Linked DNA regions of Homo sapiens. The protein of the gene in region 3 interacts with the protein of the main gene of each other region in a biochemical or structural test. Each region holds a gene or a part of one and is shown on either strand. Other genes may lie near its edges. The genes, in order: NUP62, YES1 and OGT.

Region 1 (3,750 bases), on a different chromosome or scaffold from region 3:
GCTGCCAGTGTTGCTGCGGCCCCGGTGCCTTTCAGGGGCCCAGGTGCTTCTGGGAGCCACCCCTCCCTCTGGGCCTGACACAGGGCCCAAGGTGGTCAGCAGTTCACCGGTCCAGGCCTCTTCCCATGTCAACCCCCTGCCCCTCCACACTGCCCCAAGGTAGTTCTATGATTGTGCCCATTTTACTGATGAGGTGACCACAGGTCGGGGGGTACAGTATCTTGTCCCAGACCACTAAGCGGTGAGTGATGGCATCCTGGGCTCTAGGACACTGGTGTCAGTTGTTATCAGTTTGCTGTGTCCCTTTTTTTTTGCATAAGAGCTGTGACTGCTTCTACTGAAGGGACAAGGGCAGGCACAAGGGAGGGAAGGGGCTCTGGAGGACTGTGGGCCACGTGGCAGCCTGTGCTGTCTCCCAGCCCCCGCGTCATCCTCTCCCCAACTGAGCTGGCCTTGGCCTACCTGCCCTTGTTTGCCAGGACTCCCACCTTCAACCCCGGCACCCCTGGCCTGCGTGACCCAGTTACCCTCCCTGGCTCCTCTCAGGGACCTCAGTATCACATTCGCTGGCCTCTGTGCTGAGCAACTCATTAGAAAATGTATTGATGCCTACGGAAATAGCAGCACAGGGCGGGGGGTTGTGGGGAACGTTTCTGGGAATGAGGAGGGCCCTGACTTTGCCCTCGAAGCGTTCGGGGGAGCAGTCACGTAGGCAGACATCTGCACACGGCGGATCTGAAAGCAGAAGCAGGCGTGGCGAGAACAGAGAGAATCACACACAGACCCGGGCTCTGGCAGCCGCCGGCTTCACTGATGCCATCTCCACAGCGCTCCCACACCAGGCCCCAGAGCAGGAACTACTGCTCACAGGGCATTTCCCTATGCCAGGCCCCACTCTAGGTATTTCACGCACATTTACACATTTAATCCTCAAAACCACCGTCTGCAATGGACCATCTCATCCCCATTTTACGGAGGGGAAACTGAGTCATAGAAAGAGGATGCCACTTGCTGAGGGTCACAGAAGTGGTGGAGTTGGGGTGTGAACCCAGCAGGCTGGCTCTAGGGCCCATGCTCTGACCCACGCTGCGGAAGGCAGCCGAGGCTCGGCAGATGAGGGCCCTGCCTGCACTCCAGTCTACAACTGAGTGCTGGGCTCAGGACCAGAACCCCGGTCTGTCTGATGCAAAACTCGGAGCCTTTTCCATCATGCCAGGAGGCCACCGTGATTGGGAAAGCAGTGAGGAGTTGCGGCAATAGCAGGGCGATGGCACGGTGCAGGTGCAGGCAGGAATCGATAGCGTCTGGCAACTGTGAGCAGCAGCAGGCCTGAGGTGAGGGTCAGGGCTTGGAGACCTCCCAGAGACTACACCATGGGCCTCGGGGCCCTGGAAGCTGTGCAGCATGGTGGAGGCTGAGGTCCCATCTAACTGGCACTGTGATTTTCACAACCCCCCTTACCTCTCGGGACCTCAGTCTTGACTCCTGCTAACAAGCCTCTGTGATCTGAGGCCCCTTCTTGGCACCGAGCCTCAGATTCTCAGGGTCCTGCACGGGTGGCTGATCTCCCTCCCTCTCCACACCACCCCTACTCTTGCTGTGCGGGGGTTCTCCCTTATCCAAGGCTCTGCTAACCGGGAGCGGTTGCCAGGTGTGCTGGGGTCCCCAGAGAATCCCCGAACTCCCCGTCCCCGTCAAACAGCCAGGGCTGATGCAACCTGCCTGCAACCACCGCCTCACTCCCCAAGCCAGGCCCCTCCGCACCGAAAAAGAGTCCCCAGTAGCCCCACCCTTGCTTCAAGCCCCAGCTCAGGAGTTGAAGGGGAGCTCGAGGCTGGGGGAGGCCAGGACATGAGTCCTGAAGGGGCCACAGGCCTGGGTCAGGAATGTGCACACGAGGGGACTCAGGGTTCGAAGATCTGGGGAGAAGGGTCGCAGGCAACCACTGATGACCGGCTATGAACTAGAACAGGCTGGGAGGGGCTGGAGAGCTAAGGGTGCCAACTGGCACCCACTCACCCTGAGTCCAGCTGCTAAGTCTGGCTGGGCTGAAGTGGGTGGGACCCAATAGCTAGAGAGAAAAGGCGGCAAAACGGTGGGGAGGGGAAGCAGAGTCCCTGCCCAGACACCTCTGCAGCCAGCATAAACCGCACATAGCCAGCAATGCAATTCTCCTACTGACCAAGCTATTAAAAATTACCCACACCGGGCCAGGCGCGGTGGTTCACGCCTGTAATACCAGCACTTTGGGAGGCTGAGGCGGGTGGATCGCCTGAGTTCGGGAGTTCGAGACCAGCCTGACCAACATGGAGAAACCCCGTCTCTACTAAAAATACAAAATTAGCCATGTGTGGTGACACATGCCTGTAATCCTAGCTACTCGGGAGGCTGAGGCAGGAGAATCTCTTGAACCCAGGAGGCAGAGGTTGCGGTGAGCCGAGATGGCACCATTGCACTCCAGCCTGGGCAACAAGAGTGAAACTCCGTCTCAAAAAACCAAAAAAATTAAAAAACAAAACAAAACAAAAAACCCAGGCCGGGCACAGTGGCTCAGGCTTGTAATCCTAACACTTTGGGAGGGTGAGGCAGGAGGATCGTTTGAGCCCAGGAATCAGGAATTCAAGACCAGCCTGGGCAACATAGTAAGACCCTCCCCCCCATCTCTACTAAAAAAAGCCAAAAAAAAAAAAAAATAGCATCCTACCTGGCCATCCTCTCAATATCCCGCAATCCCAGTCTGAGACAAAACCAAATGGAAGCACATTCCATAAAATACCCAACCAGCATTTTTCCAAACTGTCAAGGTCATGAAGGACAAGGAAAGTCTAAAACCAGTCACAGGCCAGAGGAGGCTGCGGAGCCATGATGCCTAAATATAACGTGGCATCCTGAAGGCATCCGGAAGGAGCAGAAAGGGCATTAAGTAACAACTACCAAAATCAGCATCAAGTGTGGTCAGAATCAAGAATGGCATTTGGTCAATGGTAACATACTGATGTTGCCTTGGTTGTGACAAATGTGGCAAAGTAATGTAAAATGTTAATGGAAAAAACCAAGTGAGGGGCATACAGAAATTCTCCGTATTATCTTTGCAACTTTTCTGTTGAGTCAATCTACAATTATTCCAAAATAAAAAATTTTATTTAAAAAATAACCCCCTTGGGTACGGTGGCTCACACCTGTAATCCCAGCACTTTGGGAGGCTGAGGCAGGCAGATCACGAGGTCATGAGTTCGAGACCAGCCTGACCAACATGGTGAAACCCTGTATCTACTAAAAATATAAAAATTAGCCAGGCATGATGGTGCATGTCTGTAATCCCAGCTACTCTGGAGCCTGAAGCAGGAGAATGGCTTGAACCTGGGAGGCGGTGGTTGCAGTGAGCTGTGACGGTGCCACTGCACTCCAGCCTGGGCAACAGAGCGAGACTCTGTCTCAAAAAAAAAAAAAAAAAAAAAAGCTAGGTCTTGCTTAAGACTGGGTGTGGTGGCTCATGCCTGTAAATCCCAGCATTTTGGGAGGCCGAGGTGGGTGGATCACCTGAAGTCAGGAGTTCAAGACCAGCCTGGCCAACATGGCAAAACCCCGTCTCTACTAAAAATACAAAAATTAGCCAGGCGTGGTGGTGGGCGCCTGTAATCCCAGCTACTTGGAAGGCTGAGGCAGGAGAATTGCTTGAATCTGGGAAGTGGAGGTTGAAGTGAGCCAAGATCATGCCACTGCACTCCAGCCTGGGCGACACAGCAAGAC
Region 2 (3,750 bases), on a different chromosome or scaffold from region 3:
CCAGTGCATTGCAGCCTGGGCAACAGAGTGAGACTGTCTCCAAAAAAAAAAGTCAAATACTCCGAAATGTACAATAATTAGAGAATTTTTGGGAAAAAATTTCTAAATAAAGTTCTAGTTCGTTTTCTTTAATAACTTAATTGTTTTAATATTTTCACAGAAGACACAGGTTTTACAAAATTAAAATCCGCTTCGGCTTGTATGTTGTAAATAACCAATAGAAGATAATCAAAATGTTTATTGAACGAATGGATACTGTTCTGTCATCAAATACTCTGTTTTTCTGAAAATTACATAACATGACAATTAAAACTCAAAACTCAATTACGGCATCAAGATCCTAAGTTTTGACTTTTATCTATTTTCGGTTTTCTAGAACAGTAATTCTTTAGATCAGTAATTTCAGCCTTAGTTTTTCTATTCTTAAGAATGCCATGAAATCTCAGCATAAAATAAGTTTTTGTTTAAAGTTTATGAAGATTCACAGCACCTGAAGGATGAATATGTTTTGGTTCAAAAGGCAAATGACAATATGGTGTTGGAGTTTCAGAAATGCAGAGAATCATTGGGTCATGCTATTTTATTTGCTTTATGTAATGGCTTGCTATTTTAGTGGTTGATATTGTGGCTTTGCATTGTTGTAGAGTTGAAGAAGAGATCTCATCTGTGCCAAATTTTTATATCACAGGAACTTTCAGTCATGTTATAAAGGTGATGTTTGTGGTGCACGCTTTGTTGTGTGAATATTTACAGGAAGTTTTAGTAAGATCTTCCATTGTTTAGAACCCTACATGGCTTAGGTCACCTTCAGTTCACATTTAAACAGTTTTATAATATAAGTCCTATAGCGAGGCACAACTGCTTTTCTTTAAAGGAAATAATCTGTTTCTATTAAAGTGTCTTGTCTTATTGGTAGTTCGTGTATGGCTATGGTAGGGTATGTATTATCTCTTTTCTTCCTCTCAGCTGCTCCAGTGCCACAATTAGGCTGAGTATTGCTCAGCTGCAGCTGCTGGGTGATTACTAACCATCCAGCTCCTGTCTAAACTCAGAGGCAGATTTAGCAAAAGGAGCTATAGTAACAGTAGAGGGTGAAAGAGAAGAGCCAGTGCTGCCGCCAATATCGTTTTCACATGTCTGTATGCCAAGGAATCGTTGGCTGCAGCAGCACTACTGTTGTCTTGGAACTAGCAGACTTGATGGCAATATATCCTGGTCTGCGTTGGGTTTACCTTTAAGATCTGAAAGCCCACTCCAGGAAAGACAGAGAATCCTGTAATTTTAGAGTATAGAATAATGTACTGTTGAGGTACTAATGGACTGAGTTACAAGCCTCTGTGCCTCAACTCCTTTTCCCCCCCAAATCTAGGGTAGCAATGCCCTTCAGTTTCTCTTGTTCAAATGTACAGTAAGCTGTGAGACTGCAGGTTCCTTGAAGCATTATACTTCATTTCACTTTAAGCTGTGATTCTTAGAATTGCTTCTTTTATTGTTGTTTAGGGGAGGGGAGTAGAATTGCTGGCATATAGGTTCTTTGGACTCTACTTTCTCCTAGGAAGTGGAAGGCCTTCAAGAGGGATAACTTCTAGAATTAGCTATACATTGCATATCCGTGGTGGCTGCCTGAATTTTGCTAGTAGGAACTCTGCATTCTTTTCCTTTTGTTCTTTCTTTATCCCTGGCGTTTGAGAAGATGGACATCAACAGTTGCAAATACGTTATCAGCTATATATGGCAATCCCCAGACTGGAAGATGCCATAGGCAAATTTTGCTGCTTCTAAAATGCTGCTCAGCTTATAAATATGCCAAGCAAATAGCAGCAGTCGCATCTTTTGTGTTTTTGTGTTTTGCTTTGTTTTTGAGACAGGATCTTGCTCTGTTGCCCAGACTGGAGTGCAGTGGTGCAGTCACAGCTCACCGCAGCCTTGACCTCTGGGGCCCAAGGGATCCTCCCACTTTAGCCTCCTGAGTAGCTCGGACCACAGGTGTGCACCACCATGCCTGGCTAATTTTTTTTTTTTTTTTTTGATGAAGTATCACTCTACTGCCCAGGCTGGTGTGCAATGGCACGATCTTGGCTCACTGCAACCTCTGCCTCCCAGGTTCAAGTGATTCTCCTGCCTCAGCCTCCCGAGTAGCTGGGATTGCAAGCGTGCACCACCACGCCCGGCTAATTTTTGTACTTTTAGTAGAGACAGGGTTTCACCATGTTGGCCAGACTGGAGCATGCCTGGCTAATTTTTGAATTTTTTGGAGAGATGGGGTCTCACCGTGTTGTCCAGGCTGGTCTCAAATTCTTAGGCTCCAGCAGTCCACCTGCCTGGGCCTCCCGAAATGCTGGGATTACAGGCCACCACACCCAGCCACAGCAGCGTCTTGTCCTTACTTTTACCACTACTATCTACTGAAAATCTGGAGATATTCCTTTGACTTATCTTGTCTTTGGAATTTGGTAGTTTGGGGTTTGGCATTTGGGATGGAGATTAGAGAGGATTGAGAAAAGTAGTGCTCAAACTTGTATAACCAGAGGAAGGATGAGGTACAGTTAGACCATGCATTTGAACAGTAAGAAGTACACATCATTATGGCATATACTTAGCAAGAGATTGGTGTTATGACCTCTTTGTGCTCCCACAAAACACTTATGTCAAAACACACCTCTCCTTGCACTGTAATTATTTCTTTCCATGCTTGTCTGTTATTCTTGACCTAGTATTCACTGTGTCAAGGAACTGTTTTATAGCAATCTTTGAGAACAGCCCTTAGCACAATAAATACTAAATAAATTCTGAATTGTATGTAGGGATGTGGTTCTGGGCAGATTTATATGAATTACAGCTATGGACTTTTCGCAAACAAAACAAATCTTTTGAGTACACCTCTACTAAAATGTTATAAAACTAGCTTAATACTTTTTCATAGCTCGAAGTTAATTCTTTAGATTTTTGCTCTCAAGGTTTTGTTCTAGAAGGTGATTTTACAAAATAGCTTAAGCAGTCCTTCAAATATGAATTTAAAGGTCATTTTGATATTTCTAATATGAACTGAAAATTCATTGTAGTTGAAGTTAAACTAGTCTCTAGTAAGGTTTATTTTAAATAAATACGTTGTACTATTTTAGTGAAGAAAGTCCAAGTTATGCTGAAGAAAAATCCTAGATTTTTAAAAAATGCATTTGGTATCTCATCACAGTAGTGACAATCAGTATTACAATTATGACTTGTTCATATATACCTAGGACAAAAAGAAAAAGAAGTCCTGATTTTCTTGCAGTAATGTGTGTGAAGGAATGCATAATTCATAGGTGTACTTTTGCTGGGTTATTGGGGGTGAGGACGGAACAGGAAGTGCTAGGAGGAAAAGTACTGACCCCTGAAACTTCAAGATTGTCTGGTTTTCAGCCTCTATTCCCAGCAAAATGTGGATTCTAGGTTTTCTTCAACTGACTTAAGAGGATTTTCACTTCTCTAATTTTTTAATGTAACTTTTCAGTTTCTTAGCATTAAGTAGAAATTGGGGTGAGGTGAGGAAGTTGGTGGTGGTTGTGTATAAGTTAATACTTCACATTGTTTCCTGGCGAATGTATTGACTTCTAACTTTTGTTCTGATGTGATTAATATTTTACAGATAAGGATACTTTAAAAATAATAGCAGCCAGACATTTGGAAGGAGCAGAGAAGGCAATATGGTGTTATAAGGAAAGGACTGGAAGGTAGAGCACTAACACTATCTAGATTTTAGTTTCATTT
Region 3 (3,750 bases):
CTTCAATCAAAACACCGGCCAGGTGCAGTGGCTCACACATGTAATCCCAGTACTTTGGGAGGCCGAGGTCGGACCACTTGAGGTCAGGAGTTCAAGACCAGCCTGGCCAACATGGTGAAACCCCATCTCTACTAAAAATACAAAAATTACCTGGGCATGGTGATGTGCAACTGTAGTCCCAGCTACTCGAGAGGCTGAGGCATGAGAATGGCTTGAACCCGAGAGGCAGAGGTTACAGTGAGCCAAGATTGCGCCACTGCACTCCAGCCTGGGCAACAGAGCAAGACTGTGTCTCCAAAAACAAAAAACAAAAACAAAAAAAAACACACACACCGAAAAGGTATTTGATTAAGACACTGAGTAATTGTATGTTTATTAAAGACTGATAAAGAACACTTCATCTGCTGGGCGCGGTGGCTCATGCCTGTAATCCCAGCACTTTGGGAGGCCAAGGCGGGCAGATCACTTGAGGCCCGGAGTTCAAGACCACCCTGGCCAACATGGCGAAACCCCGTCTCTACTAAAAAATACAAAAAATTAGCCGGGCATGGTGGCTCACGCCTGTAATCCCAGCTACTCAGGAGGCCGAGGCAGGAGAATTGCTTGAACCTGGGAGGCGGAAGCTGCAGTGAGCTGAGATCGTGCCACTGCACTCCAGCCTGGGCGACAGAGCGAGACTCTGTCTCAAAAAAAAATAAAGAAAGAACACTTCATCTTCACTTAGATGACAACTCTGTAGTAAACACGGCATGATGCATTTAATTTAGATTGTCTATAGTGATAGATGTCCACCCCAAGAACTTTTAAACTTTATAATAGAAATGTTTAAACATATACAAAAGCAGAGGAACATTACGTCCAAGTCTCCATTATCCATTTTCAACAATTCATATATCATGTTTGATCTTATTTAATCTATACTCCAACTTACTCCCCCTCTTCGCAGATCATTTTGAAGCAAAGCCCAGACATATTCCATTCAAAAATACTTCAATATGTATCTCAGGGACAACACAAGAATGCTTTTTCCTCCCAACCTAACCACAATACCATTATCATACCTAACAGAAAAAAAAAAAAAAAAGACAGCAATTCCTTCATATTAAATATCAGCTGGGCGTGGTGGCTCATGCCTGTAATCCTAGCACTTTGAGAGGCCGAGGCAGGCAGACTGCCTGAGCTCAGGAGTTCAAGACCTGGGAACATGGCAAAGCCCTGTCTCCACTAAAAATACAAAAAGCTAGCCGGGCATGATGGCGCACGCCTGTAGTCCCACCTACTCCGGAGGCTGAGGCAAGTGAATCCCTTGAGCCTGGGAGGTGAAGGTTGCAGTGAGCCAAGATCACACCACTGCACTTCAGCCTGGGCGATCAAGTGAGACCCTGTCTCAAAAAAAAAAAAAAAAAAATCCATTCAGTGCTCCAATTTCTCATTAACTGAGTCAGGATCCAAATAAGACAGATATAATTTGTCAATGTGCCTCTCTGAGTTTCTTTTAATCCTTTAAAAGTTTGTGTGTTTATTTATTTATTTTTGGAGACGGAGTGTCACTCATTATTTATTTTTGGAGACGGAGTGTCACTCACTCTGTCGCCCAGGCTGGAGTGCAGTGGCACGATCTTGGCTCACCGCAACCTCCTCCTCCTCCCGGGTTCAGGCAATTCTCCTGCCTCAGCCTCCTAAGTAGCTGGGATTACAGGCACACGCCACCGCACCGCACCCAGCTGTTTTTTTTTTCTTTTGTATTTTGAGTAGAGATGGGGTTGCACCATGTTGGCCAGGCTGGTCTCGAACTCCTGACCTCAAGTGATCCACTCGCCTCAGCCTCCCAAAGTGCTGAGATTACAGGGGTGAGCTACCGCACCCGGCCTAAAAGTTTAATTTAAATCTCCATTTTTATTACAATTTGTTGAAGTAAGAAGGTCAGCTTCCCAAAGTTTGAATTTTGCTGACTGCATCCCTATGGTGTCCTTTAACATGTTTCCTGTCCCGTGTATATCTCCTGTAAATTGGTAGGTAGAACCAGAAGCTTAATTAGGTTTGTGTTCTTTTCTCTTTGTGCAAGACTACTTCACTGGTGAAATTGTTTACCACAAGGTACTTAATACCTGATTGTATCTCGTTTTTGTCACTGATAAATGCTTTAACTTTTTTTTTATTTTTTGAGATGGAGTCTTGCTCTGTCGCCCAGGCTGGAATGCAATGGTGCAATCTCAGCTCACTGCAACCTCCACCTCCCAGGTTCAAGAGATTCTCCTGCCTCCGCCTCCTGAGTAGCTGGGATTACAGGCTCCTGCTACCATGCCTGGCTAATTTTTGTATTTTTAGTAGAGATGGGGTTTTGCCATGTTGGCCAGGCTGGTCTCGAACTCCTGACCTCAGGTGATCCACCTGCCATGGCCTCCCGAAGTGCTGGGATTACAGGCGTGAGCCACCAAGCCCGGCCTAATAAATGCTTTCACTATTAATGGTGATATTCTATCATTCCTTCTTCACTTATTAGCTAGAATGCTTTTATAAAGAAAAGCTTCCCCCATCAACTATTGGGTTACTCTATGGTCTAGTTCATACAGGAGAGGGAAGACATATGCTTTATTCTTTTAATTTTTAAATTTAAAGTTGATATATAATTGTGTATATTTATGGCATACAATGTGATGGTTTGATCCACGTATACATTTTAGAAAGAGTCAACCAAGCTAATTAACATAGCCATCACCTCACTAACTTATTTTTTTGTGGTTGAGGACATTAAAAACCTATTCTTTTTGCAATTTTGAAATATACATTATTAACAACTGTGGTCACCATGCAGTACTACAGATCACTAAAACTTATTCCTCCAGTCTAACTGAAACTTTGATCAATATCTCCCTTTTCCCCATCCCTCCTCCACCCCCCCAAGCCTCACCACCCTTCTACTCTCTGTTTCTATGAAATCAACTTTTTTAGATTCCACAAATAGGTGACATAATACAGTATCTACTTTCTGTGCCTGGTTTATTTCACTTAGCATAAAGCACAGATAACAAAAGCAAAAATATGCAATGAGATTGCATCAAACTAAAAAGCTTCTGCACAGTAAAGGAAACAATTACACAGAGTGAATAGGCAACCCCGGATTAGGAGAAAGCATTTGCAAACTATACAACTGATAAAGGGTTAAGAAGCTCAACTCAGTAGCAAATACGCCCATTAAAATACGGGCAAAGGATCTAAACAGACATTTCTCAAAAGAAGAGGTACAGGCCAGACACAGTGGCTCATGTCTGTAATCCTATCACTTGGGGAGACCAAGGTGGGAGGATCACTTGAGCCCAGGAGTTCGAGGTTGCAGTGAGCTATTATGGCGCCACTGCACTCCAGCCTGGGCAACAGAGCAGGACCTCATCTCAAAAAAACAAAACAAAACAAAACAAAAAAAACAAATGGCAAGCAGATATATAAAAAATATGCTCAACATCACTAATCATCAAGGAAATGCAAAATAAAACCATGAGTTAGCATCTCACACTTGTTAGTATAGCTATCATCAAAAGGACGAATAATAACAAGTGTTAGTGAGGATGTAAAGAAAGGGAAGCCTTGTAACTGATGGGGGAAGTATAAATTGGCACAGCCATTTTGGGAACTAGTATAGAGGTTCCTCAAAAACTTTATTCTTCTCTTTTTAACCAGTTTTCCAAATTAATTGTTCCTTGTAAGTCTTCCAAAGATGACCAATGAATTTTTTAGCATAATTATAAGCTC

Evidence for each region.
Region 1: of the proteins of OGT (region 3) and NUP62, one has a biochemical effect on the other in vitro, tested with the Homo sapiens proteins (2 studies listed by BioGRID).
Region 2: of the proteins of OGT (region 3) and YES1, one has a biochemical effect on the other in vitro, tested with the Homo sapiens proteins (one study listed by BioGRID).

Annotation. Positions count from the first base shown.
Region 1 is NC_000019.10:49,922,772-49,926,521, forward strand, and holds part of NUP62 (nuclear pore glycoprotein p62), read right to left. Parts: intron 1-3,750. UniProt on the Homo sapiens protein: Essential component of the nuclear pore complex. The N-terminal is probably involved in nucleocytoplasmic transport.
Region 2 is NC_000018.10:805,610-809,359, reverse strand, and holds part of YES1 (tyrosine-protein kinase Yes), read left to right. Parts: intron 1-3,750. UniProt on the Homo sapiens protein: Non-receptor protein tyrosine kinase that is involved in the regulation of cell growth and survival, apoptosis, cell-cell adhesion, cytoskeleton remodeling, and differentiation.
Region 3 is NC_000023.11:71,550,046-71,553,795, reverse strand, and holds part of OGT (UDP-N-acetylglucosamine--peptide N-acetylglucosaminyltransferase 110 kDa subunit), read right to left. Parts: intron 1-3,750. UniProt on the Homo sapiens protein: Catalyzes the transfer of a single N-acetylglucosamine from UDP-GlcNAc to a serine or threonine residue in cytoplasmic and nuclear proteins resulting in their modification with a beta-linked N-acetylglucosamine (O-GlcNAc).